Homo sapiens: one gene and its partners. The protein of the gene in region 1 purifies or fractionates together with the protein of each later gene. This does not show direct contact. Each region holds a gene or a part of one and is shown in the gene's direction. Other genes may lie near its edges. The genes, in order: HDAC2, SP1, GSE1 and SUDS3.

The links.
Region 2: the proteins of HDAC2 (region 1) and SP1 purify together in Homo sapiens (affinity purification with western blotting; 11 studies listed by BioGRID and IntAct, with this or other methods). This does not show direct contact.
Region 3: the proteins of HDAC2 (region 1) and GSE1 purify together in Homo sapiens (affinity purification with mass spectrometry; 5 studies listed by BioGRID and IntAct, with this or other methods). This does not show direct contact.
Region 4: the proteins of HDAC2 (region 1) and SUDS3 purify together in Homo sapiens (affinity purification with mass spectrometry; 5 studies listed by BioGRID and IntAct, with this or other methods). This does not show direct contact.

What each region holds. Positions count from the first base shown.
Region 1 is NC_000006.12:113,961,146-113,968,184, reverse strand, and holds part of HDAC2 (histone deacetylase 2), read left to right. Parts: intron 1-5,790; exon of another isoform or gene 5,791-5,818; intron 5,819-7,039. UniProt on the Homo sapiens protein: Histone deacetylase that catalyzes the deacetylation of lysine residues on the N-terminal part of the core histones (H2A, H2B, H3 and H4).
Region 2 is NC_000012.12:53,411,160-53,416,969, forward strand, and holds the end of SP1 (transcription factor Sp1), read left to right. Parts: coding exon 1-81; 3' UTR 82-5,287; downstream 5,288-5,810. UniProt on the Homo sapiens protein: Transcription factor that can activate or repress transcription in response to physiological and pathological stimuli.
Region 3 is NC_000016.10:85,609,445-85,616,321, forward strand, and holds the start of GSE1 (genetic suppressor element 1), read left to right. Parts: upstream 1-3,877; 5' UTR 3,878-3,947; coding exon 3,948-3,954; exon of another isoform or gene 3,955-4,384; intron 4,385-6,086; exon of another isoform or gene 6,087-6,110; intron 6,111-6,129; exon of another isoform or gene 6,130-6,877.
Region 4 is NC_000012.12:118,372,575-118,379,571, forward strand, and holds the start of SUDS3 (sin3 histone deacetylase corepressor complex component SDS3), read left to right. Parts: upstream 1-3,980; 5' UTR 3,981-4,117; coding exon 4,118-4,259; intron 4,260-6,997.

The sequences.
Region 1 (7,039 bases):
GCAAATTCTATAACCATAGGAATCCTACCTTTAGGCTTCCTGGGGCTGTTAGGCACACGGAGCCTCTTGGCCACACAGAATGTCTGCCACTGAGGCTGTTTGCATCTTAATGAAAGAACTTTTAAATATATACATATTGTTCTCTGCACGTTATGTAATCTTCAGGTAACCCTTTAGGTCACTGAAACGTTGGTCCCAAGGGAACCTTCAGACATTGATGGATTAGGTATCCTTAAACCTTTGAAGAAAAGTAAGAGAAGTTATTACTTCTCTGACTGTAGCTATTGATCCATGCCTCCAAATTCCCAAAAACATACTTCTGAATCATGTTCCTTCTTTATACACTAGAAGATCATCAAGAATCTGTAAAATGATACAGCTAATTAGATAGTCACTAAGATCCCTTCTGGGCCTTAAAACGATGTGATTTTTCTCTACTTAAATATAATTAGCAGCTAAGCTGTGTTAGGCTCTAGTTATACCACTCACATTTTTAATACTGTATCTAGACATGTTTATGCTTTGTTTTGAATTAATCTTGAGGCCAAACATATTTAGTGCTTGTTTTTATGGTGTATACAGTATAATAGGGTTTATATACCTAATTTATGTAACTATACACAAATTTCTCTGTGCTCTATTTTTTCCTCCTCTGAGAGGGATGCATAATCAGTTTTGGAGACAAGTGGTCCAGAAAAAAACACTCAAAGACTGTATACAGATAAAACTATATAAATACAAAAGTTATCAAGATTAGGCCAGGTGTGGTGGCTCATGCCTATAATCTCAGCACTTTGGGAGACTGAGGCAGGCAAATCACCTGAGGTCGGGAGTTTGAGAAGAGCCTGGCCAACATGGCGAAACCCCGTCTCTACTAAAAATACAAAAATTAGCCAGGCGTGGTGGCAGGCACCAGTAGTCCCAGTTACTCGGGAGGCTGAGGCAGGAGAATGGCTTGAACCCAGGAGGTGCAGGTTGCAGTGAGCCAAGATAGTGCCATGGGCAACAAGAGCGAAACTCCGTCTCAAAAAAAAAAGTTACCAAGATGATACCTCCCAACGTACTCCTTCTTCAGCAAATTATAGAAATTCTACTTGGCAGCCAACGATTGTCAGATTTTCTTAGACTTGTATTTATGAGTAGTACCAAAGTCTTTTGCTGAATAACCTTTAATACAACTACATGGGTTCTTAGCTGTGGTATAAATCTTTATTATCCGTGAAATAGGTAATAATTTCTTTGGAGGCAAATAAGTGCTAAATTAATTATAGCAGCAGTTCATAAATACCAGTAATACTAATTGCACAATAAAACATGACTAAATAAGACTGAAATTTTCCTATACTTCTCTTTCCCCAGAAATCTTTTGCCTCTCTTTTCTTTCAAATTTTACCTCATCAGAGATGCTTTCTCCTATTACCTAAGTCCCTGTTATTGCCTTATTTTTCTTCCTTTTGGTTGTACCATATAACTTTTGTCTCTCTCCTCACTATAACATAAGCTTCATTAGGACAGTCTGTCTGTTTTGCTTGTGTTTGTATCTTCGCCAACTACATTTAAAAACGTAGCTTTTTTTTTTAATTAGTGATGAATAAATTATTAATTCCTTATACTTTTTTTTTTTTTTTGAGATGGAATTTTGCTCTTATTGCCCAGGCTGGAGTGCAGTGGCGTGATCCCAGCTCACTGCAACCTCCACTACCCTCCCGGGTTCAAGTGATTCTCTTGCCTCAGCCTCCCAAGTAGTTGAGATTACAGGCACGTGCCACCACCCCTGGCTAATTTTTGTATTTTTTAGTAGAGATGGGGGTTTTACCATGTTGGCCAGGCTGGTCTCGAACTCCTGACCTGGGGTGATCCACCCACCTCAGCCTCCCTAAGTGCTGGGATTACAGGCGTGAGCCACTGTGCCTGGCCAATTCCTTATTCTTATAGATAGAACGCTTTCATATAACGTTCCCTCTAATTCTTGAAACTACTCTGAACTACATTTAGGTAGGATGGGTGGCATTTTGGCATTTTTGGTATTGTTTAGATGAAAACAGATTCACATTTGTTTGGTGCAGTCTACCACTTTTCCTTTTCCACACTGACTGTAGTTTTAATGTTCAAGGAGAGTTCAACATCCGGAATCTTTATTTTTCTTTTTTCCTTTTCAAAGTGTTTCCTCTGCTACCAAACAAACAAAACTCCTTAACAAAAACTTTAAATGCTTCTGTTGACAAGTCCTTAAAGGAAAACACTTGGGATTGGAGAAGGCATCTCTTAGGGAATGTTAATAAATTCAAACTTGGAAGAATTCAAATCAAGTCTAAGGATTTTTTTGTACTGGTTATTAAGCCTTATTCCTCTGTATTTCAGTAGCAGTCTGCTTATTGTTACTTGTTCATTAAGCCAGCTTTGGGTTCAGACATATCAAATAGGCTTAAAGTTCCTACTGTGTGCCAAATAGACAAAAGATTGCTCAAGTCCTAAGAAGGAAATAAAAGACTGCAGGTATAAAGTAAGAGAGGGGGCCGGGTGCAGTGGCTCACGCCTATAATCCCAGCACTTTGGGAAGCCGAGGCGGGCAGATCACAAGGTCAGGAGTTTGAGACCAGCCTGGCCAACATGGCGAAACCCTCTCTCTACTAAAAATACAAAAAAAAGTTAGCTGGGCATGGTGACGGGTGCCTGTAATCCCAGCTACTTGGGAGGCTGAGGCAGGAGAATCGCTTGAACCCGGGAGGCAGAGAGGTTGCAGTGAGCCGAGATCATGCCATTGCACTCCAGCCTGGGTGGGTGGCAAGAGCAAGACTCTGTCTCAAAAAAAAAAACAAAAAAAGTAAAAGAGAGGGGACCTTTGATAGTGTAATCAGAAAAGGGAAGACCTGAAGGAAGAGAATGGGCCAGCCTTAAAAAGAGTTTACTACATAAGATATTACAAATAGCAAAGCCAGATAGTTATTAATAGAACTTGGTGCACTTAATGGGAAGGAAGACAAGGAAAATGTGGAGTCCCATGTTAGGCAGTAAAAAGTGGGACTGCACAAAACTGTGTAGTAAGAAATTTGACTTTACCCAGAGGTGGAAAGCCATTGAAAGTTTCTCAAATAGAATGCATTCTCTCAAAATAATTGGTAAGGAGTTGTGGAATATAGGCTGGAAGCAAGAATTGAACACATATTGGTCCATATAAAATGTAATGGTTGCATTTTAGATAGAAATAGACATATTTAAGAGAGATTTGGGCCTCAAACCAATAGAACTTTTTGATGGATTAGAAATGGAGTTGGAGCTGAGGAATGGTGTTAGAGAATGAAGGATGACTCCTAAGTTTCTGGATTGAGCAGTTAGGTGGTATGTGGTACTACTCACTAAGATTGGGAATACAAATAAAGAGCTCTGTTTTGAACATCTTATATTTGAGATCCTTATTGAATTCAAGTGAAAAGACTGAGAAGAGAGTTAACCTCTGTGAGTTTATAATCCAGAGAGGAGAGTCTAGACATAGAAATTTGGGATTTCTCAGCTTATATCAGGTGAAGTATTGAGACTGAAAAAGATACAGCATAGACAGACGACTGGTCCCAGGACTTAACTCCCGAGAGAAGAGAATTTAGGGCAGAACTATTGTTCACTGATGAACCCAAACCCTTAGAACAGTACCTGCTTGGCACATGGTAGGCTCTTGATTTATTAAATGAATGGCTGAACTGAAAACCCTTGATGTTTAAAGGTTGGTGGAGGAGTGGCCTTGGGGTACAAGTAAAATCCCAAGAAAATGGTATTATGGAAGCCAAGGCTCCGAATGTCTCAAGGAGGAATAACCTCCTTGAAATATGTATTAAAGATGTGTTAATATGTATAAAAAATGGATAGTGGGCTAAGTAGTCTGGAAGATGAAAATAATAAACTTTTTTCTTTTCTCTTGTTTTTTTTTTCCTGAGTCTCTTTTTGCAGTCAACTTATCTTTGTGGCTAAAGGTACATTTCACAGTTCTGAAATCCAAAATGACCTGAAAATTGAAAAAAATTTTGGTAACTCATTTGGAATCAAAATCTTAACCTGAATCAATGTGAGGCTATTTATGATCTTTATTCCTCTGTGAATACCGTGAATATTCACACTTTTTTGCTGTAGAAATATTAATGTTTGATTATATCATGCCACCCAAACTCTAGGCTATTACATAATATATGGCAGGTGTACCATATTATCTCTACAAAATCTGAAAAAGTGTAAAATTTGAAACATATCTAATTTGAAGGAATATGGATAAGAGATTGTGGACCTTAGTAGACACTTCCATTCTGTTAGTTTCTTGAAGAGTGAGCAATTTGTAAAATTTTGCAGATAAATAATTCTTTACAGTAATTTCTTTGCATTGACAATTAAAGTTTGTTGTGTTCAAGGAACCACCTTGAGCTGATTTTTCTGAATGTTTATTTCATTGGTAAAGTATTTTTATGTACAGGTTGAATATCCTTTATCTGAATTCTTGGGACCAGAAGTATTTCAGATTTGGGGAGGTTTTGCAATATTTGTAATTATTTACCAGTTAGCATCCCTAATTCGAAAATCAAAAATTTGACATGCTCCAGTTAGCATTTCCTTGACTATTAAGTTGGTGCTCAAAACAGTTCAGATTTTGGAACATTTTGGATATCAAATTTTTGGATTAGGGATAATCTGTATTTTGATGCAAATCAGTAACATTTAAAATGCCCAAATTATTAATACATTACTGACCATTTAAATGATGAATAAAAATTGTAGGGTCTTAAAACTTCTTAGCCTTTTTATACTTTATGAAAAAGTGGGCTGGGCACAGTGGCTCACATCTGTAATCCCAGCACTTTGGGAGGCTGAGGCGGGCAGATCATCTGAGGTCAGGAGTTTGAGACAAGCCTGGCAAATATGGAGATACCCCGTCACTACTAAAAATACAAAAATTAGCCGGGTATGGTGGTGGGCGCTTGTAATCCCAGCTACTTGGGAGGCTGAGGCAGGAGAATTGCTTGAACCCCAGAGGTGGAGGTTGCAGTGAGCCAAGATCACATCACCGCACTCCAGCCTGGGTGACAAGAGCGAAACTCCATCTCAAAAAGAAAACAAAGTGGATGCCTACAAAGTAGCCATCTAGAGAATTGTGAGATACAGAATTAGTGGGAAAAAGTTGGAGATGGTTATTTTATAACGCCTTTATATTTTAGAAGAATTCTTTTTTTTTTTTTTTTTTGATACAGAGTCTCGCTCTGTCACCCAGGCTGGAGTGCAGTGGCACGATCTCGGCTCACTGCAACCTCCGCCTCCTGGGTTCAAGTGATTCTCCTGCCTCAGCCTCCTGAGCAGCTGGGACTACAGGCGCATGCCACCACACCTGGCTTTTTTTTTTGTATTTTTAGTAGAGACGGGGTTTCACAATGTTTGTCAGGAAGGTCTCGATCTCTTGACTTCGTGATCTGCCCGCCTCGGCCTCCCGAAGTACTGGGATTACGGGTGTGAGCCTCCACGCCCAGCTAGAAGAATTCTTGGTAAACCAAAAAATTATCTGTAGCTTGGCTGCCCTGTATACATGTATCATTTAGGTTCTTTGTGTATTCTTTGTGGGACTGGGGTCCCTAAATTTCAACAGAGAAACTTGTTGAAAGCTATGCGTATTCGTATACGATTTGAGGACCCTATTAGTAAAAAGTAAATTACTCTGATATATTAGGTACAGTTTCTTGTGTTCATTTTCTTTAAATTAACCAAGACCCTAAGCCTTTATTTAAAATATTTATATTTCATATTATGTCTTTTTTTCAGCCTTCACCCTGCCATTTCTAGTGAATCTGTAAGTGTCCTTGACATTCCCTGTTGTTATTACTTAAGAACATTAGCTGTGAGCTGCCCTGCCAGAGTTTGAATCTAGCTCCTCCACTTGCTGGCTATGTGACTTAGGCAATAATACCTGACTTGTCTGTTTCTCATCCTTCTTTACTATTATACAATAGGAATAATGTAATAATACCCACATCATAAGGTTATTGACAAGATTAAAAGATATGTGAAGTACTTAATAGTGCCTTCTAGTAAGCACTCAACAAGTGTTAATTACTGCTTTTTTTTTTTTTCAAACACACTTGCTCAGAAATTGCTACTGTAGTCTCCAATTATTGGGGCCTGGGGCTTTTCACTGGATTTTCAGTGTGCATCAAATAACTAGAGTATTTGATGTTATGATGTGGTAGATGTTAGAGACATTTCATTTGGGTAATTGTTACACAGAGGCAGATAGATGGAAGTTATTGTTTAGTTTGTGTCTTTTCTGTTTTAGGTGATATTGGAAATTATTATGGGCAGGGTCATCCCACGAAACCTCATAGAATCTGCATTTCTAGTGAAGACTAGACTTTCATTATTTTTACTTTAATGATTTCTTTAGTAGTGATAACTAAGAAATGCCTTCCCTTGTATTAATTTAATTACATGATGCTTTGTAATAACACTAGTGGGTTTTCCATATCTAAGAAATGATGAGACCAGGCTGCTTTCAAGGAACTATATATCCCTTGTATTGTCACCATGTAAGGTAGAGCTTTATGGTAGATTCTTTCTTAATAGGTAGTTTATTTTCTGCAATCATAGCCTCTTAATTATAATTGCAGAGGAATGTTGCAAAGGGCCATGGCCCTGCTTTGCTAAACTCTATATTGTTTCTTAGCCTTGTTGGCACCTGCATTAAAAAGGTGGCTTTCCCTTTAAAAGACTTTGTATATGAATTGTTTTCAGAAGAGAGCTGTGCTGAAAATGAAGTTAACTAAAATTAGAGGTGTGATACCAACAAAATCAAGTATTTATGTTATTAGAAGCATGGATTTTGTAAAAGCTGATTGTTTATCCCGTACTGTTATCAAATATGTAGGAGAGAGGACAAAAAAGTTTTTGGGGTTGTTTCCATTAAACAAACAAAAGGTGTATTTAGGGAGGACTTTGAAAGATTTAGTGGATAAATTGCATTTTTTATTCTAGCTTTTATTGTAATATATAAACCCGTGTTGAAATGATAGACTTC
Region 2 (5,810 bases), on another chromosome or scaffold:
GCCCGTCTTGCCAACAGTGGCATCAACGTCATGCAGGTGGCAGATCTGCAGTCCATTAATATCAGTGGCAATGGCTTCTGAGATCAGGCACCCGGGGCCAGAGACATATGGGCCATACCCCTTAACCCCGGGATGCAAGGTAGCATGGGTCCAAGAGACATGGAAGAGAGAGCCATGAAGCATTAAAATGCATGGTGTTGAGAAGAATCAGGAGAGGGATACAAGAGAGGAGATGGGGTCCCGGCACCCATCTGTATCATCAGTGCCTCTTTGAAGGTGGGAAACATTAGTGAAAATTCTGTTGGTGCCACGCTTTGATGAGCATTTGTTTGACCCCAGTTTCTTCTTACACTTCTTACCCCAGCCTACCCTTCCTGCATTTCTCTTCTCAGCTCTTCCATGATGGATTCCCCCCCCTTTCCTAAAGCCATCATGCCTTGATAAATATATATGATCATTGAAATACTTTTTAACAAAAAACAGATTCTATATTATTATATATATATATATATATATAAAGATATATAGAGATGCATTCACAGGGGTTGGCTGGGAGGAGGAAGACCATTCTGTGACCAAAATACCTTGGTCATTTTTTTTATATTGCCTTATTTCCCTATGGCTGAGCCTTGTTGTGACACATCAAGCTTTTCTGTAGATGTTGTCTTGGCTTCCCACCAGCTTAAGCGTTCATATGCTCTGCTTTTAGTTCATATATACATACATAATGTTTTTCCTTTCTTAATTTTGTCTTTTTGTTTGGGATCAGCTTCTTGCACTCCTTCCCTAACTCAACTGTTGCCGTCTCATCTTCTCTCATCTGATCACTTCATGTTTTGTTTTTGTTACTGCCTGGATGAGGCACTTCTGTCAATTTTTTCAGGACCTTAGTTCCAGCAGCAGAATGGAAAAATCCTTGAAGCCCAGGCTGATGCTTGAAGTAACTGTGGAGGGAGTGTTCAAAATACTACTGACGCAGGCACCTTCTTGGCGCTGGAGAGTCAAAGGCATCTCCCTTCATTAGCTGCTCTGAGCATCAAGAATTAGAAGTCTTTCAGTGGAATTGTACAAGAGTCCCTTTGAAGATAATAATCTTGGCTCAGTTTGTATAAACTGTCAAATTTTCAAATAATAGGTAGGGGGCTTTCACTAGGAAAATCATGTGCTCAGAAGAGGAAATGACTCGTAGTCAGGTTCAGGAGTTAGTGGAGTATTTGGACTTTGGTACTGCTGTCTTCCAAGGTAGCTCTAAGTTTTGATGTGTGGGCTTCTGAGTTTATATTCTGAAAGGAAATACACTTCTTTTGAACATCCCCACTAGGTTCTTTTCCATTGTCAATAAGGAGCATCAGCCAGTGAATCTGTTTCAGGTTTCCATTCTGCAGAACTCCTCCAAAGCATGTGCTAGTGGCAAGACAGTGGTTCTTATGATGTTTTCCCTTAACTTTTCCTTGTATGTTCTTGGGTGGTTCCTAAGGGAAAGGGAAGCACATGATCATGGGAATGATAGCCCAGAACAAAAAGAAATCTTGTCTTACCACAGTGTTTTATAGGAGAGATTGGGAGAAATCATCCTGTTTTCTCTGTGACCTGATTTCAGAAGAGACTGATCCAAAAATTATAACGGCAGGGAACCTAGTGCATTTGGCACTGAGATTTAAATGCAACCAGAATTGTCCTCAAGGCCCAGCCATAAAAGCATTGTCTCTCTCGACCTTCTGGTATCTTGTTAGAGAGCTTTTCACTGTGAGGAAGTGTGGAAAAATAGCTCTGTGTGTGTGTGTGTGTGTGTGTGTGTGTGTGTGTGTAATCTGTTAGGTTGGGGATAGGTTTTCTGCTAGCCAATATTAAAAGAGACCTGCAATAAAAAAATTACCCTGATCTGATAGAAAGCAAGTGTTTTTGTATGTGTGGGTGAATGTGTGTTCATGCCCGTATATGTCTACACACAGATGACAAATTATATTTGAAATCGTTGGAAAATAAATTCAGATCAAAATGCCTTTCAGGCCCATTACCTAGAAATCTATCTTAAAACCTGGGTATGTTCCTAAGGTCATTTCTTTGCTTATGCTAAATTAATTACAATTATGAATGGAGGATATTCTACTGTACTTTTTTAAAAAGAAACTATTTTTGTGTTTGAAAGTGAAACCAACATCCAGATCTATAGCAGAGTCCTTATTCTTCTCATAAATCTTTTTACTTTGGCTACAAATAGATGATGGTATGATTCTATTATATATTTTATATAAAATCCATCCAAATTAAGTTTTGGGTAAGTGTGTTGTTTAATCTGAACTATAGTAACTTAATACTCTAAACAATAGTTCACTCCATTTGGTCCTTTCTCCACAGATGTAATTATGTTTTCAACTCAGGAACTATGGCAAGGAACTTTCCCCAGATCAAATTCTATTAACGCTGAGATACAAGTCATCCATGCACAGCCACTATCATACCCTTTATTCTCACTGAAAGGCAGAACTCAGAACCTGTTATTTTATGTCTGTAATCATGTACTTTGGCATCTTTTGGAGGAAAGGGGCAGGATAACTCACTGGAATGTACAGTATTTTGCTAGTGCATTTCAAGGAATGGAATCTTCTCCAGTATGAAATTACCAGATATAAAATAATGTAATGATGCTGAGGATATAAGCTTTTAGAAGGTAATTTGATGGTATTTCTTTCTCGAATGAAAAGCTGCTGGTTTACCCTCAACCCTATTCATTAGCATTACCATGAGTGAATTTATATCTAATTATTTCCACTTGCCCTGTTCTCTTCACACCAAGGAAGCTCCAGATCCAGTATCTTGTTTGGCCTCAAAACAGAAGCAGCTTCTTTTGTCTCCCAGCAGTAGTGAGCCACTCAGTCTCTTCCACAGGAAGTTTGGAGCCTACATTCCTTGAGTCAGGAGCTTATTACAGAAAAACCCCGTTTCCCTGAACTTTTGGCTAACAGAAATTAATTTAACTGACATGCATATTGATTCTGAAATTTTTTTCCTAAGTTTTTTTCATTTTTTTGAATGAGTTTTTTAAATTTTTTAGATGACCAAAACTTGCAGGGCAGGGGATGCCCAGAAGAGTGGTGAGATAGTAAAACACTTATTCCCTCATCCTTTCAGGTTTTCAGGTTGCCCATTTATATTCATTTACATGTCATTTGACTGTCTCACTTTTTACCCAGAACAGTAACAACCCACACCGTCTTCCTTCAGGGATTTCCAACTGGCACTCTGTGGGTGCTACACAGAATGCAATTTAATGGATATTTCTCAGCCTGGTTCAGAATAAATTGATCCTTTGATCCCAGAAAGTATATACTGAAGTGTGGGATAAAGATTATGATTAGGGGAGGGTTGGAGACAAAAGCTGTAAATTACTATGGCTGATTTATTTCTACTATATACATATATATTTTTTGCTTTTGTATATCCTATATAGGAAACTAAGCATTGTATTTTTTTTAACAAATCTAAAAAAGCACTATGAACTACAGGTGTTTGACTTTCAAAATATATTTTGTATTGTTAATATCTTCACATTGTGTGAATACTGGAAGCTGCAGATCTTTGCTAGGACGCAATAAATTTATATACTTTTTGAGGGGTTCTTCTGGGGTGCTAATCAGGCCCCTGTTATGCTTAGGGGGAGCCCTGGTGCTACTTGCTTGAAGTTTTCAGTGTAAGTACCCTGATGCCTTTTGGACCTTGGGATCAGATCAAGAGTTTTGGAGATCAGGTACCAAGGAAATAAGGACAGTCTAGCTGCCTCAAGTGAGGGGCCCTTTGCATAGCTCTCCTTCCCCCTCACTGAAGCTGGGTAGCCTATTGGGGTTGAGAGGGAAAATGTGAAATCTCAGAATTTATCTCCCTTAGAAGAGAGCCAGTAACTTATGTACAAGGATGAAAGAAAGGTCGCAGCAGTAGCTTTGGGGAAAGGGAGGAAGATATGGCACTTCTCCAACCCCGGAAAACATTGCTTTTGAAAACTGCTGATAAAATATGAGCCGGTTATTACTTCTGTTTGGGAGACTGTGCTCTCTGTGGTGCCTCTCTTGGCTCTACTCCACAGATACCAGACCTCTTCTAAGAGGATGAGCAGACCAGCTTTGAGGTTGACCTGTTTCTCTTTGTCTGCCTTCCCAAAACACCAGCCCCCAGGAAGACATTAAGCAGCCTTAAGCTTAAATTCCTACTCCCTCTTCCAAATTTGGCTCACTTGCCTTAGATCCAAGGCAGGGAAAGGAAAAGAAGGGGGGTCTCTGGCTTTATTACTCCCCTAAGTCTTTACTCTGACTTCCCCAAACCCAGAAAGATTTTCTCCACAGTGTTCATTTGAAAGAGGAGTATTTTGTCCCATTTTCCCCTTCCTCATTATCAAACAGCCCCAGTCTTCCTTGTCTCTGCTAAGAAAGTAGAGGCATGATGATCTGCCTCTCAACTGCCCTAAGTCCTAGCTAAGTATCAGGGGAAAAAAAAAAAAAAAAAGCCTAACAAATGGGATTAGACTAGGGCTGCAAGTAGTGAGGATTTTGTTGATACCTCTGCTGGGATGTGTGCTTTCCCATATCTTGCCTTCAGGAATTACACTGTGCCTTTTCCCCAGGGATATGGGCTCTGTCTACCCAGTGCTCCAGTTTCCCGGTAACTGCTCTTGAACATTGTGGACAAGGGCAGGTCTTCATATTTTTGATCATCCCTTTCTCCCAGTGAAATCCCATAGCCCTTACCTAGAGTCTAGGGCACAAAGACTTCGGGGAAGATACACTGAGATTGACCTGAGGAGACATCTACACACACCAGTGGCAGCTGCCCCAGGGCCTGCTTCCCCTTCCTAAGTCTGTCATCCTCTGGAAGGGATGGGTGGTGCTCCAATCTCTGGTGCCTAAAAACCCAAGTTTATTTCTCTCTTAACACTGGCAATAACCAGTCCACACCACTGTTGCCTTTTAAAACCTCTTAATAATCTCATGCTGTGTTTGTTTTGATTCCAATCCAATTATCACCAGGGCTGTGTGGGTAAATGCTTTTAAATGCTCTCTCATCTTGTTCTTCCCCCTCACCCCCCACTCTTAGGTATGTATGATGCTAATCTTGTCCCTAAGTAAGTTTCTTCCTGCTCCTTTTGTATCTTCCTTTCTTGTCTTTCCTCCTACCTTTTGTCTCTTGGTGTTTTGGGACTTTTTTTTTTTTTTTTTTGGCCTTTTGTACAAAGATTAGTTTCAATGTAGTCTGTAGCCTCCTTTGTAAACCAATTAAAAAGTTTTTTAATAAAAAACCATGTCTCTGGTGTATTGAAGAGGGTTGGGAATGGTGAGAGTGTACGTTTGTAACTTCATACTCTGAACCTAACAAAGGTTTCCAGCTACACTGTGTTGTGCTCCATACATGTTAATTAGTGCAATTGCCCTATATTTAACTCCCGGGTAAATGGTTTCATGACCAGATCAATGTGCCACAACTACACGGAAATGTGGAGGACCAAGACAAACAGGCAACACTAACTTTATTTTTTTTCTCATATGCTTTTTTATTTTGGAATAATTTTAGATTTACAGAAAAGTTGTAAAGCTAGAACAGAGTTTCCATATAATCCTTACCCGTTTCCCTCATTGTTAACATATTACCATGGTACATTGTCAAAATTAAGAAACTGACATCGTGGCCAGGTGTGGTGGCTCACGCTTGTAATCCCAGCACTTTGGGAGGCTGAGGTGGGTGGATCACGAGGTCAGGAGATCGAGACCATCCTGGCTAACACGGTGAAACTGTCTACTAAAAATACAAAAAATTAGATGGGC
Region 3 (6,877 bases), on another chromosome or scaffold:
CAGTTTTGTTTCTGGAAAACCAAGTGTGAAACACAGCCCAGGGTTTAGTGTGTTTGTTGAGTGAAAAACCGCCCACCCTCTGTGGTTCAAGGCGTCCCTTTCTTTCTGGTGGATCCTCCTAGGACTCCCGTCTCCAGACACCCCTCTTAGTTCCTGAGCTCAGGGAGTAGGTTTAAGGTGTCTCATGTTCATCTGAGATGGAAAGCTTTCTTTTTTTTTTCCTCCTTTGAAACAGGGTCTCACTCTGTCGCCCAGGCTAGAGTGTAGTGGCACAATCTCAGCTCACTGCGACCTCTGCCTCCTGGGCTCAAGGGATCCTCCTACCTCACTTTCCCAAGTAGATGGGACTACAGGCACACGCCACCATGCAGGGCTAATTTTTTTTTGTTTTTAATAGAGACAGGGTTTTGCCATGTTGTCCAGGCCGGTCTCGAACTCCTGATCTCAAGCAATATGCCTATCTTGGCCCCCCCAAAGTGCTGGGATTACAGGCGTGAGCTACCATGCCCTTAGGAAAGCTTTTAAATTTTAAATCTCTTTTGTGGTGCAGGTCTAATAGGTTCCAGGGCTTGTGGAGGTAGGGCTAGAGTTTGCACCTAGGTGTCACTGAAGCAGGTACCTGAGGCAGGTGAGGGGCTGGGAGCCTGCCTTCCGCTCTTGGAGGCACAGTTTAGCTTGGCAGGGGCCTCAGGGTGTGAGCAAACGCGCACCAGGCACCAGCATCCTGTTGCCTTGGCACAAAGCACAGTCCGTGGTAAGGAGCACCGCGTGCAGCATCCCCAGGGCAGGTGTCCTGCTCTGGGAGGTGCCTCCGTAGGCCTGGCCCTGGCACCTACCTAGCTCCTTCCAGGCAAATGGGAGTGGAGGGTGGGAAGGAGGTCCAGGGAAAGAGAGCTGTGCCCAGGAAGGGCTCGCACTATCTGGGGGCGCGGGGCTGTGGGTAGGGCGCTGCTTAGGAAGAGAGAGGAGGAGGAGCAGGCCTGGAGGGAAATGGAGGGAGGCCAGCCTTAGCCCCAGTGCTGGGAAATTAGGAGTCAAGCGACAAACCTCGTTAGCGAGGAGCGCGCCGGCTGCAGGAGAGCAATTCCCACCCTTAAACTCGGAGGCCGTGCTCCGGATTACTAATTTCCGGGGGCCGGGCGCACTGACAGTGAGTGTCATCCATCTCCCCCTTGCCAGCCCGCCTGGTGGCCGCCAGCGTTTCCCGGCCAGGACTCACAGAGCGGCTCGCTGCTGCCCCCCGGCGGTTGCCGGGGTGTCCGGCAGCGCCTCGCTCCCCTAGGCCTACTGGGTTGGGAAGGGGAGTGACTTCCAGGTGTGAGCAGTTTGGGGCGCAGCTTGCATGTCACCTGTGTGCACATGATCTTGAGCAACTCAGGGCCTCAACTTCCTCATCTGTGAAACGGGACCAGACCACCCATCTCGCAATCCAGGGGAGCTAGATGTATACGCCGGAGGGATTGGCCGGCTCTAAAAAGCCGAGTGATGCACCTCCCAGTGGCCACTCCACACGTTTTTGTGGTTGGCCGTCGTGGTCCTGCTCAAACAGGTGGAGAAACCTAACCCCACCTTCACCCCTGGCCCAAGGGCCTCTCCAAGGAAGAAGGGAGTAGGTGGTGGCACCGTGTCCGGGTGAGAGACCTGGAGGTGGGGCCTAGGTGTCTACCCGGCCAGGTGCGAGAGGTTCATTTGCATGCTGTTCCCCTCCCCCCGCAGCTTGTAATCCAGGTGGGAAAGGGGTTGGGCCAGTCCCGGAGGTGAATTTTGTTTTTAAGGCTCGGGGCCAGTCGTCGTCCATTCCTTCCTAACACCTCCCTATCCTCCCCTCCCCCCGCCCGTGACTCCCAGTGGGGGTGGAGGCGCCCCTCCCCCTCCCCCTCCCCCTCCCAGCCCTGGCCGCCTGGGGCCGGGTGAATCCGCCGGCCAGTGCGGGTATAAATTACCCGGGCCCGCGCGGCCGAGCCACCGTGTGGTGCGTAAATTATAGCGTCCGGCCAAGGCCGCAAGGGGGGCGCCGCCGGTGAGCTGGCGGGTCGTGCGGGGAAGCAGCACCCCCGCGCCGTGCCAGGGCCGGCCAGCGTCCGCAGGTAGGAGCCAGTAACGGCCCGACCCGGCCTCGCCGGTCCGTTTCCCTTTTCGTTTGTGGTCTGCCCGGAGCCTTGTGCAAGGCGGGGGGCCGGCCCGCGTGCGCCCCCACCTCCGGGCCCCGGCGCGCGCTCGGTCGGAGGTCGAGCGGGGAGCGTGGGGCCTGAGGGAGCCCGCCAGACCCTGCCCCCCGGAGGGCACACAGGCTGGTTCTGCTCCCCGCTGGCGCGGGCCCCGAACGCTCTAGGCCCGCCAGCGTCATCGGGAACAGATGGATGGGGGGTGGCAGGCGCCCAGCGCTCGCTCCCGTCGCAATCCGGGCTGGCGCGGGGAGGGGGAGGGAGGAAGGCGGGGGAGGCGGGCTCGCGGGGACGGCAGCGTGCGCGCCTGCCAAGCCTGGCGCGGGCATGTCCCGGGGCAGGTTTGGGGCTGGCACGAGGGGGCTGAAAGTCGAAACCCGCACCGCAGCGCAGCGCTGGGGCGGCCGCCCAGGGGGTGCTGGTTTGCCCCAGGGCTCAGAAGTAGGGACGCGCTAGATCAGAGGGGTGTTGGAAGAGGATGAGGAGGGAGCGACCCCGGGGCCTCAGAGCCGCCCGGGGGGGTTACAGCCCAGGGCGCCAGAAGGCGGCAGGGGAGGCTCGCCGACCCCTGCCCCCGAGGCCCGCCCCTTTAACCCCGAGCTTCCTGGGGACGCGCCCGCCGCGATGGGGTGGGGGCGGGGCGGGGCGGGGCGGGGTGGGCGGAGCCGGGGGGTGGGAAGGCTGGGGCCTTCAGTCCCTCTCCGCGCCGCCTGTGGGTGCCCAGGAATTTCAGGACGCTCCCTGAGTCATTCCAGTCAAGTGCCTGGGTGAGGTAGGGTGGGGGGTGCCAGGAATGGGGAGGCGCTGCGCTGGGGCCAGAAGCGCAATGGGTCGTGCCAGTTTCTGGAGGCGGGCGACCTCGCCTCTGACCGCAACCCCAGCTACTTAATGATCCCCCTGGCGAAGCGGCGCCTCCGTGGGTTCTCCAGCCCCTGGGCCGCGGGTTCTTTAAAGAACACCCCCCGCAGCGGCCCGCAATTGTGGCCTTCCCAAAAGTTACTTAAAACTGGGGGGTGGGGTGCCTTATGGAATTTTGAGGCCAAGTTCTTAGTATTCAGCCTTTTCTAGTTGGGGTAATAAGGTCAGGCATGGGGGGGGTGGGGCTTGGGTACACAGTCTGTTTTGTGTCGCCTCCCCCCACCCCACGCGCCACCAGCGCCCAGAAAGTTGTTCTCCAAAAGGCCTCCAGGACACGGAGTTACCCGTCCGCCCATTATTGGGCCTGCTCTGTGTCAGGCACTGTTCTAGGTTCCCGGGACGCAGCTGCGAGACAGGGCTCCGCTCACGTGGCGAGGGTGCTGCACTACTTTAAGAGTTAAGTGGCCGGTCTTAGCCACCAAGGTCCCCGGGACCCCCGAGCAGTCCAGCCAGGGGCTCCCGAGAGTGTGGGGGTGGCACCTCCGCGGCCCCGCTGGTGTCCCCGGCTCACCTGGCCGGCCGGGCCGGGGAGGGGCGTGTGCCTGGGCGGGTGGATCCGGGCGCCCGTCGGTGCGCGCGCGCGCGCCTGTGTGTTTGCGGCTGAAACCCGACACCTCCCGCTGGCTGAGGTCAGGGAGCCGGGAGCGAGCCAGTGGCCCGGGAGTGGGCGGCGTTGCGTTTGGGTGTGTCCTCGGCGGCGACAGCAGCAGGTGTTTCTTGGCCGGGGCCCCGGAAGCTCCACCTCCCCAGCGGGCCCGAGCTGCCGCCGCCGAGCAGCCCCGGGTGAGATAAGCAGTTTAGACAAACACTGGGCGACGGTGGCTCCAGCATGTATCAGCCGAGGTGGAGCTGCGGGGCCCTGGCATGAAAGGTGAGCGCGCCGCACCCGGCCGGGGACGGGGTCCTCCCCCCTCCCCCCACCGCACTGTCCTCCTGCAAGTTCGCGGGTTTCGCGGGGGCGGCCGCCAACGGCTCCCGGGCAACTTCCCCGGAGTGTTAGCGGCGATAAGAGCCGGGAGGGCGGGCAGGCGACCAAAGGCCACCCCCTTCCTCCGCCCGCGGGTCGCAGCCTGGGAGGCCTGGCTGCGGGCGGGGACTCGGGGGCTCCGGGCTCAGGAGTGCGCTCAGCGGGGGATGGGGGGGGTGCGTTTAAGTGCGTGCGGGCTAGAGGGCAGGTAAAGTGGGGGGATGGGGGTGGCGGGGGGAGTCTCCGAGAGCTGCGGGCGCTGGAGAGCTGGAATGAAAACTTTGCGGCGACGCGGGAGGGAGCGAATGGGGGTGGCTGTGCGCCCCCGCGGCAGGTGCTGGCGACGGCCGAGGAAGCGGGGGTGTGGGGGGGGGGGGTGCTCGCTACTGGGGCCGCGCCGGTTAGGGTTCTTGTCTTGCTCCCCTCCCCCTCCCCGACCCCTTGTCTCGGGGGAGTTGGTCGGGAGGGCGGGACCGCAGCCTGCCGGGTTTGTGACCCCCACGCCCTGCTTCCCGAGGAAGGGCGCGCCCCGGGCTCGGCCGCTTCTCTCCTCTCTCTCCCCCCACCCCCGGCGGAGCGGCTCCCTGCCCCTCCCCTCCCCCCCGCAGAAGATGGCTGCCCCAGCCTCGGAGGTGGGAGAGGGATTGCACATCCGCCGCCCCCCACCCGCACTGGCCTTTTTCCCTCCCCGGCCCTTCCTGCTCCGCCTGGATGCGCCTCCCCGCCCCCAGCCCTCCCGGGCCCTGCGGCCGCGCTGATGGGCGGCGAGTGGCCCGACCGAGTGGAGCCGATTCAATTATATTGCAGCACCAGAGACACCTCCTCGGCCGCCCGCCCGCCTCTCTAGCAGGCTAATTAAATTCCCTTCATGGAGGCGGAGCGGGAGTGGAGCTCACCCTCCCTGCGCCCGCCCACCCCCAGCTTTCCGCCTCCCCTCCCCAGCGCCGGGTGGGGGACCAGGGGGGCACTTAGAAATGTGCGGTGGAGACTCGAGGCGCAGGCCATAGGGAGGGGGTTCCCAGATGGGGGGAAGGGACACCGCGACACCCTCATTAGATGGGGGAGTGGAGGCTGCGCCCTTTCCACGTGGTGGGCCGGGGGCCTGGCCGCAGTGCCCGTCTGAGTTCCGAGGGCAGCGTGCTGGCGGTGGGGGAGCACCTGCCGGGTTCCCAGCTGGGCGGTGGATGCCAGCCGGAGTTGAGTCGGTTTGGCTCTTACAAACTAGCCTTTGTACAAAGTGCGTTTAAAACACACTAAACCCTTGCTCCCCGCTGCGGTGCCTTATCTGGGGCCTGAGGGGTAGCGGCCACACAGGTTGGGGTTTGGAAACAAAAAGCGGGGCCACCAAATGGAAAGAGGGCTCCTTTTGTAAAAGGCGCCTGAACAAAAGGCCCAGCCGCACTCCGGGTGGAAGCGAACCCGCCTAAGCCGATTTCCAGGCGGCGGGGGACAAAGGGGCAGAGAGAAGGTCTTGGTGGGGGCGTTGTGAAATGTGCCCCCTGGTCGGCCGTCTCGTCCTCTCCTCTGGGATTCCGTGCTCCCGCCTCCCGGCAGGGGTGGAAGGGGGAACCCAGGTGAGCAGCCTTCCCTGGCCTCCCTCGGTGTTGCTTAAGCTTGGGGCACTTCAGTGTTGCTCACCCTGTGTTTACGGCCGCCTCCACCAGCAGGGACGGCAGAACCTGAGGCACAGGCTGTGCCTGACTCAGCCGCCACGCCACAGGTGAGGGGCCCAGGGCGCAGGCTCCGACGGCGAAGTGTGTCATCCCGGCCGCCGGCTGTGCAGGGAGTCGCCCCGCCCAGGTAGATTCAGGAGCGCTGGAAGAGGCCCTGGCCTGCGAGAGCAGCGACCTCGGTGCTTCCTAAGAGACTTTCCGAGACAGCCAGCCCCGTGTCGGCAGCGTTCCTGATCTCCTGCGGGCCGGGTGCGAGGATGGCTTTTGTCACTCTGGCAGCAGACACCAAAGTCAGGAGGGGAAGCTGGGGAAGCTGGAGCCAACCACGGTTTTGACGCTTGGAGTTTTCTTTCCTGGAGCCTTGGGGGCGGTGCCGGGCCAGAGCTGGTGAGAGCCCGCCAGGAGCCTCCGGTGACCTAGGGTCAGCCCTGCCTTGGGAAGGGAGGTCGGGAAGTCCTAGTTCTAGGCACAGTGAGGCTGAGCTCAAAACAAGGAAGGCAACAAGGTGTCCACTGTGGCGCAGGCTCTGAGCTGTTTGGGACAGTTTTTAGGATCTTGGAGTGTCAGAGTTCAAAGGGGCTTGTACATCTCCAAACTCGGTGTTTTAAAACTGCTGCTGGCCAGGCCTTTCCAAGCCCAGTTAAGCCACAGCCTCTGGGTTCCTGACCCGGGTCTGGGGGTTGTCAGAGCTCCCCAGCTGATCCTAACGTACACACTGGGGGTAGGAACAAGGGGCAAACTGAGGCTTGGGGCCAGGCGTGGGGCGGACACCGCGCTCACAGCAGGAAGCCTCCTCCGATGGCCCCGATGAGCCCTCCCCTCCAGCAGTCACTTCCCTGTCTCTGGGGGAAGTTCAGGGGCTGCAGATCTGAGTGCCTTGTGGTTTCAGAGCAGAAGCCAAGCCTGCCTGTGGGCTCAGCATCGCCGGCCCCAGGAAGAGCCAAGTCTGCACAGCGCCACTCTGTGGCAGACCGGGGTCCTGCACCTCTGAGCTAGAGATTCCCCCCTTCCAACCCCTGGAGTCCCAAATTCCCCTTGAGCCCCTGGAGCAGGTACTGTCTGTCCTCCCCTGCTCTGAAGGAGGCGGACTGGGGGGCCTTTGGGCTCGGAGCCCCGAGCTGAGGGGCAGGAGCTGGTGCCTCCCACTTTTCTGG
Region 4 (6,997 bases), on another chromosome or scaffold:
AACTCCCCTCACTCTGCCTGGGGTCCCGCCGCCTCGGCTCCCACTGTCATGCCCCGCGCCCCGGTGCTCTCACCTCAGACCTGCTGTCACCACCCCCGGGCCCGGCGCCGCCGCCGCCGCTTCCTCTCCCACACTTGTTCCTGAGTCGCTCTCCTGTGGCTTGTTCCCCGGCGGATCCTTGGGTCCGGTCGCTGAGTGCCGGATCCGGCTGTGCGCAGCCTCTGCTCGCGGTCTCGGCGTTGCGTCCCACTCTCCACGCAGGACCCCGCCGCCCGGCGCCACAAGGACCCTCCCGCGGCCGCCGCCGCTGCTGCTGTCCGAGGTGCGGCTCCTGCCAGGGGTGGCCAATCGCACCGGACTGCGCCGAGCACGCCCCGCCCCACCGTCTCAGTCCGCCCGCCCCCTGCCCCGGACCACGCCCCAAGCTCGGCTCCAATAGGCTCTCTACTGACCTTCCCTGATCGCGGGGCACAGGGCCGGGGCCGTATATAGGTATTTGATTGATGGAGCCTGGGAAGCCGAGCGGTCGATGGAACCCGAGGATTGGCGGAGTTGTCGATGGGCGGGACAGGGCAGGGCGGGGTCTCCTCAGACGCGGAAGACCTTGCAACTTTAGTAACCTACGGGCCCGCCTGGGGTGCGGTCAGTCTTGTTTGTGCTGCTCTCCGGTCAAAGTTCATGGCGCTTCTCCCCACGCCTTTACTTTTCTTGGGAGATTCCCAGGGACCACCATGTTAGAGCCTTTGGGGAGGACCCCAGTCTCTCGCTAGACCTTGCACAGCTTTCTTAGTAATTCTGCCATGAACTAATATAGCATTAATTTGCCCAGGATTTGTAAAAATTTCCTGGATTTAAACCATTTCTTTTTAAAATCTCTTGCAAGGGAGTTGCCTCTCCTTGAATTGAGTTCAGCAGCCGTCAGTTTGATACCGTTGGGGGAAAAAAAATCTATATACAGTACTAGGTGCATACTTTGCCCAACTAAGCGTTCAATGCGGGGCACATTTTGATAGGTGCAAGGACAAAGCTTTAGAAATTTTCAGTTTGTAGGTTTTTATGACAGTAGGAAGACTGTGGTAGGGGAACCCTATTATTAGCTTAACAAGGTTTCAGCAAAGCTATTCAATATAACCTTTTTCCAGGGCCACAGGTTTTAATGATTCTATGTGAACGTGTGGCCAAAGGATAACGAGCTTTGACCCAGGTTTAACATGTGATAATCAGAGACTCCTCTTGATCCACGCTAAAGGATAGTGCCTGCCAGGGGTGAAAGTGCATCATGCTACTAAGACCCATTTGTGTTATTTTTGTGAAACTGGATATGCTGATCAAATCAACACCGGAAACAGAAAACTGCTTTCCTTACTCTTAACGCCAAAAGTAAGTTTATGGACTTTAGAATTTAGCATTTTATGAAGAAATTGTCTCAGGAACACATTTTGATCCTAAGTTTTGTCAGATGTATACAGGCCTTAGTTCTCAGAGAACCCTCGATTGTTAACTTTTTAACTCCAGCTGACAAAATGTGTTTGTGTTCTAAACAGTATACATGTTTCTTCTAGTGTTTTAAGAATCATACGCCATTCATCACCTGAGGTCAAGGGTTCCAGACCTGCCTGGCCAACATGGTGAAATCCCGTCTGTACGAAAAATACAAAAATTAGCCGGGCATGGTGGCACCCACCTGTAATCCCAGCTACTAGAAAGGCTGAGGCAGGAGAATCACTTGAACCCGGAGGCGGAGGTTGCAGTGAGTCGAGATCGCATCACTTCACTCCAGCCTGGGTGAAAGAGCAAAACTCCGTCTCAAAAAAAGAAAAAAAGAAAAAGAAAAAAAAGAATCATACTCCATTCCAATTGTGATGTCCCCCTTTAAAGTTTCAGTTTGGGTGTTAGGGTAGGCAGAGAAGGCCTGGAAGCAAAGAAGTTGTGGAAATGGGGCTGGCAGGGCTTCGTTTCAAGTCAAGTCGAGTTCCTGAGCGGTGTGGCTGAGTACCGTTTTGAGAAGGGATATATAAAAAGATTTCAAGGTGGTAAAACTTGGTTTTGAGGGAACTTGATTTTTACAGGAGTATAGCGACTGTCCAAAATCATATTAAATAAATCTAAAGGTTAGGTAAGACTAAAGCCATAAGAGAATTTTTTTGAGTAGGTCCACCTTCACTAAAGAGCATTTTTTAGTTCTGCAGCTGGCAATCTGGACAGAAAAAAATGGGGTAAGTTTTCATAACCCAAGTGCTCAGTTGTGTCTATTCATTACATATAAAAAAGAAATGCATGACCATTAACAGATGCTGTTTGCAGTCAAGAAGACAGCAGTAAAACATAAGCAGGATAAAAATCTCAGCGTCTTGAAAGGAAACCATTTAGCAACGAAATAAACTTAAAAATTAATTGTATCAATGAACTCTTGATTTCTAAAATCTTTGCTTTTTCTGCACTATGATTACTGCTACTGACAGGAACGCAAGTTACTCAATATAGTTGATTGCAAGTAATTTAGATGTTCTCCAACAGCACAAAGAAAGAAAATGACTTCATCTTTTGGACAAGAGACAGTTCTGGAATCCTAGTTTAAATATAGATGGCAGACCTACGGTGCGATCTGAGAATGATTCTTATTTAGAAGGGGCTTCAGAAGATCTCAGAACTCCTGGAAAGACATCTTAGCATTCCATTCTGGAAATTCTTTAGTTTTGTTGGGAGAAAAAATCACTTACAAATAGAGCCAAGATTTTAATTAAAACAAGGTAGTAAATAAATGTCAAAATAAGTGGGATGAGAATAACGTTTCATTTTCAGAAGAGTCCATAGGGAACAATTCAGAGATAAATTTAATCACAAAAGGTCTGAGAATGGGAATATTCGGTTCCACCCTGGTTTTCACATCTGTTCATTTTCACTACTGGTTGCGTTTCCTACGGAGACTCGGGTGGAACATAAAAGTGGGGCTACTTTGGACAAACCATTAAAAACCTTACCCTTTTTTCTCGCTACACACAACTAGACCACATTGCTCTTAGCTAAAGGGACACCTTAAATCTATTCGTTCAGCAAAACTTATAACACCGTGTTCCTTTTCTACTCAGAGGGAATCGCACAAATTAATTCTTGCAGATACTCAGCTCTCCTGTTTTTTAAGCTTCCACGTGGGCCTTAGCCAAATAACTTCTGGTAGGCAAATTCTCCCCTTCTTCAGTTGAGAGCTCAGAGCAAGCTGTTGGATTAAGCAAAAGCACCTTTTAAAAAATTAATATTCAAGGCAGCTGTACCGCGGAGGGCCTGGGTCTCGGAGTCTAAAAAATCAGACTGGACGTTACTATTTTTTTTTAGGCAAACGACAGCTCGTTTCTCATTTGTAAAACCGGGGGAACATCTTACCGAATAAACCTTACACAAACAGAAAGGATTCCTAAGGGCTGGGAAAATACTATTTTGCTGTCCCCAGGATGGAATATCAGCATCCTTGTCTTTTAGCTCTTAATAAAGCTCTAACTAGTCACAGGAGGAGCCAGGCTGCATGATCACGCACACTCTGGACGTCTAGGTTTTCCGACCTAATAAGGGGGCAGGTCGCGTCGTTCCCTGCTTAAATTAGAGACCACCTCCACCTGCCAAGGGCCCTTCAAACCCTCCGCCCCTAGGTCGCTAACGATCACCGCTTTAGTTCTAGCTCCAGGCGCCGCCTGGCGGCTGTCTCCGGAAGTCGCCTGCGAGCCTCGGGGTCCTGACCGCTGCTGGGCCTGCCCGTAGATTTGCCTGACTCTAGCGAACCTGGCTCCGCCCCTCCCCCACTATACGTTGAGGATTTTAAGACGGCGATGAAAGGGCTGAGGTTGTGGCGACGGGGGCGTCCAGCGGCATCTCCACTCCCCCAAGGATGGCGGAATCAGGCCGTTGTCGGGCAGCTCTCGACCCGGAAGTCGCTCGCGGCGCGAGGCCCCCGTTGCCGAGCGCGGGCGCGGGGGGCGGAGCTCGGCGGAGACGGGGAAGGGGTCGCCGTGGCTGCCGGTCCTCGAGTTGGGGGCTGCCGCGGACACTGCTAGGCAGACGGCGAGTACCGAGCGCGGGTGGCCGCGGTGTCCGTGGGCCACGCTCAGCTGCGGTCAGAGGCGACATGAGTGCCGCGGGGCTGCTGGCCCCGGCCCCGGCCCAGGCTGGAGCGCCGCCGGCCCCCGAGTACTACCCCGAGGAGGATGAAGAGCTGGAGAGCGCCGAGGACGACGAGCGCAGCTGTCGGGGCCGCGAGTCGGACGAAGGTGAGTCCTGCCGCTCGCCCGGCCGCCCGGAGCGGAGGTGGGACCGCTGGGGGAGGGGGTGGGGCTGTTCGGGAGAGGGGCGGGGCGGCCTCCGGGGCCTGGGGCTGCGTGGAGGGGCCGCCGGGAGTTGCGGGGCTCGGGGAAGTTACCCCCATCCGTGCTGGAGTAGCGGGGAAGCCCTGGGTGCGTTACACTCGACCGTGATGGGGAGAGGGGACTTAGATGTTGTCACGCTGGGGGTCCCTTTAAGACCCCGTCCTCCCTCCCAGCCGTTTCTGATTGAACCTCACTCACTAGTAGGAATTAGAAACTCATTTACTGAATACATCGAGTGTAGTTCGCCCCTTTTTTGTGTGTGAGAGCATCAGAGTCCAAAGTTGCCCCTCCCCACCCCCGAAATGCATAAGTCATCTATACTTTAGGTAGTACACTATTGAGAACTCAGGTTGGTTAAAGGAAAGGGACCTAGAACCAGCCAGATACAGGTTTAAATTTGGCTTTGTCACTTAACTCAGCTTTGTAAACTTAAGTTTTCCAGCCTCGATTTACCCAACTGTAATGGAGCTGTTTAATTCCCACACCTGCCCTAGAAGGCACTTCCTAGGGTCGGTATAGGGATTAAATGACATGCGCATAAAGTACTTGGCCTGGTACTGTAAATACTCCGTAAATGTTCTCCCCACCCGCCCCCCTCCCGGAAACAGGTAAGAGAGGGAGAGATTTGCTTAATGGTCCCCAGGTGTTGTGTTTTCAGTCCCACGCTCTTTGCACTGTCATCACAGAGTCTCAGAGCCTTGCTTTTCAAACTGGGCTTTATAATTTGGCAAGTGTGAGGAACGCTATTTTGGAGGGATGGAGGAGGAGGAAGGTGATGAAATGTGAGAGATCAAGGGAGGAGAAATAGGAAACAAAGAGAGACCGATATATGAGCGGAATATTCTGGGACAAAATCGGGCCGTGGAGCAAAAGCTAGACCAGCTGTTTGGAATGGGGCCTACGTTTTATTCATCTGAGTTTCCCGAGTGCCAAGTAATGTGGCTGACCATGACAGGAACTCAGGGAAGGCCTCTTGACTGAAGGAGGGGAGAAGGGTTTGTGGGGAATTGGATCTGCAACAGCCTTACAAAAGACAGCTGCATATGCATGACATACAAAGTTGAGGGACTGCATTCGATTTAATTCCATCAGAAGACACGGCTTAACCAGAGATTTTGAATGTGAAGCACTTGCACTTCATCTCATACCCACGAGGGGGCGCTGTGGAGCCAAAATTGAGTTTTTTTTTCCTTCCAGTATAGGGGCTATTAAAATTTTGTACACACCCCAGCCATTAGCTTGTTCTAAGAACAATGTTTAAGATGTTCTGAAACAGTTTTCGTTTGATCATCTGGCCTCCTCCTTGTTCCCTTTAGTTGTAACTTGGAAAATATTTATTTGTGTCAGATTCCCCTTTTTTATTGTATACAGTTGGCTCTGCGTATCTGTGGGTTCTGCATCTGTGAATTCAACCAAGCGCAGCTCAAAAATATTCAGGAAAAAAATTGGATCTGTACTGAACATGTGCAGACTTTTTTTTTGTTATTCCTAAACAGTGTAGCGTAACAACTACTTACATAGTATTTACATTTTATTGGATATTGTAAGTAATCTTTTTTTTTTTTTTTTTAAGATGGGGTCTCACTCACTCACCCAGGCTGGTGTGCAGTGTCACGATCTCAGCTCACTGCAACTTCCATCTCCTGGGTTCAAGCAGTTCTCCTGCCTCAGTCTCCGGAGTAGTTGGGATTACTGGCACCTGCCACCATGCCTGGCTAATTTTTGTGGTTTTATTTGTTGTTTTGTTTATTTTATTTTTTTTTGAGATGGAGTTTCACTCTTGTTGCCCAGGGTGGAGTGCAATGGCGCGATCTCGGCTCACCACAACCTCTGCCTCCCGAGTTCAAGCAATTCTCCTGCCTCAGCCTCCTGAGTAGCTGGGATTACAGGCATGTGCCGCCACCCCCAGCTAATTTTGTATTTTTAGTAGAGACGTGGTTTCTCCATGCTGGTCAGGCTGGTCTCGAACTCCCGACCTCAGGTGATCCACCTGCCTTTGCCTCCCAAAGTGCTGGGATTACAGGCGTGAGCCACTGCACCTGGCCCTAATTTTTGTGTTTTTAGTAGAGATGGGGTTTCACCACGTTGGCCAGGCTGGTCTGGAACTCCTGTCCTCAGGTGATTCTCCTGCTTTGGCCTTCCAAAGTGCTGGGATTACAGACATGAGCTGCCATGCCTGGCCTGGATATTCTAAGTAATCTAGAGATGATTTAAAGTGTACTGTTGGCCTGGTGCAGTGGCTCATGCCTGTAATCCCAGCACTTTGGAATGCGAAAGCAGGTGGTTCACTTGAGGCCAGGAGTTCGAGACCAGCCTGGCCAACGTGGCGAAACCTCATCTCTACTAAAAATACAAAAAGTAGCCGGGTGTGGTGGTGCACCCCTGTAATCCCAGCTATTTGGGAAGCTGAGGCAGGAGAATCGCTTGAACCCAGGAGGTGGAGGTTGCAGTGAGCCGAGATTGTGCCACTGCACTCCAGCCTGGGCGACAGAGTGAGACTGTGTCTCATTAAAAAGAAAAGTATACTGGAAGATGTGCGTAGGTTATATGCAAATACTATGCCATTTTGTCAGAGACTTGAGCAGCTGAGGATTTTGGTATCCACGGGAGGTGCAGTAACCACTCCCCCACGGATACTGAGG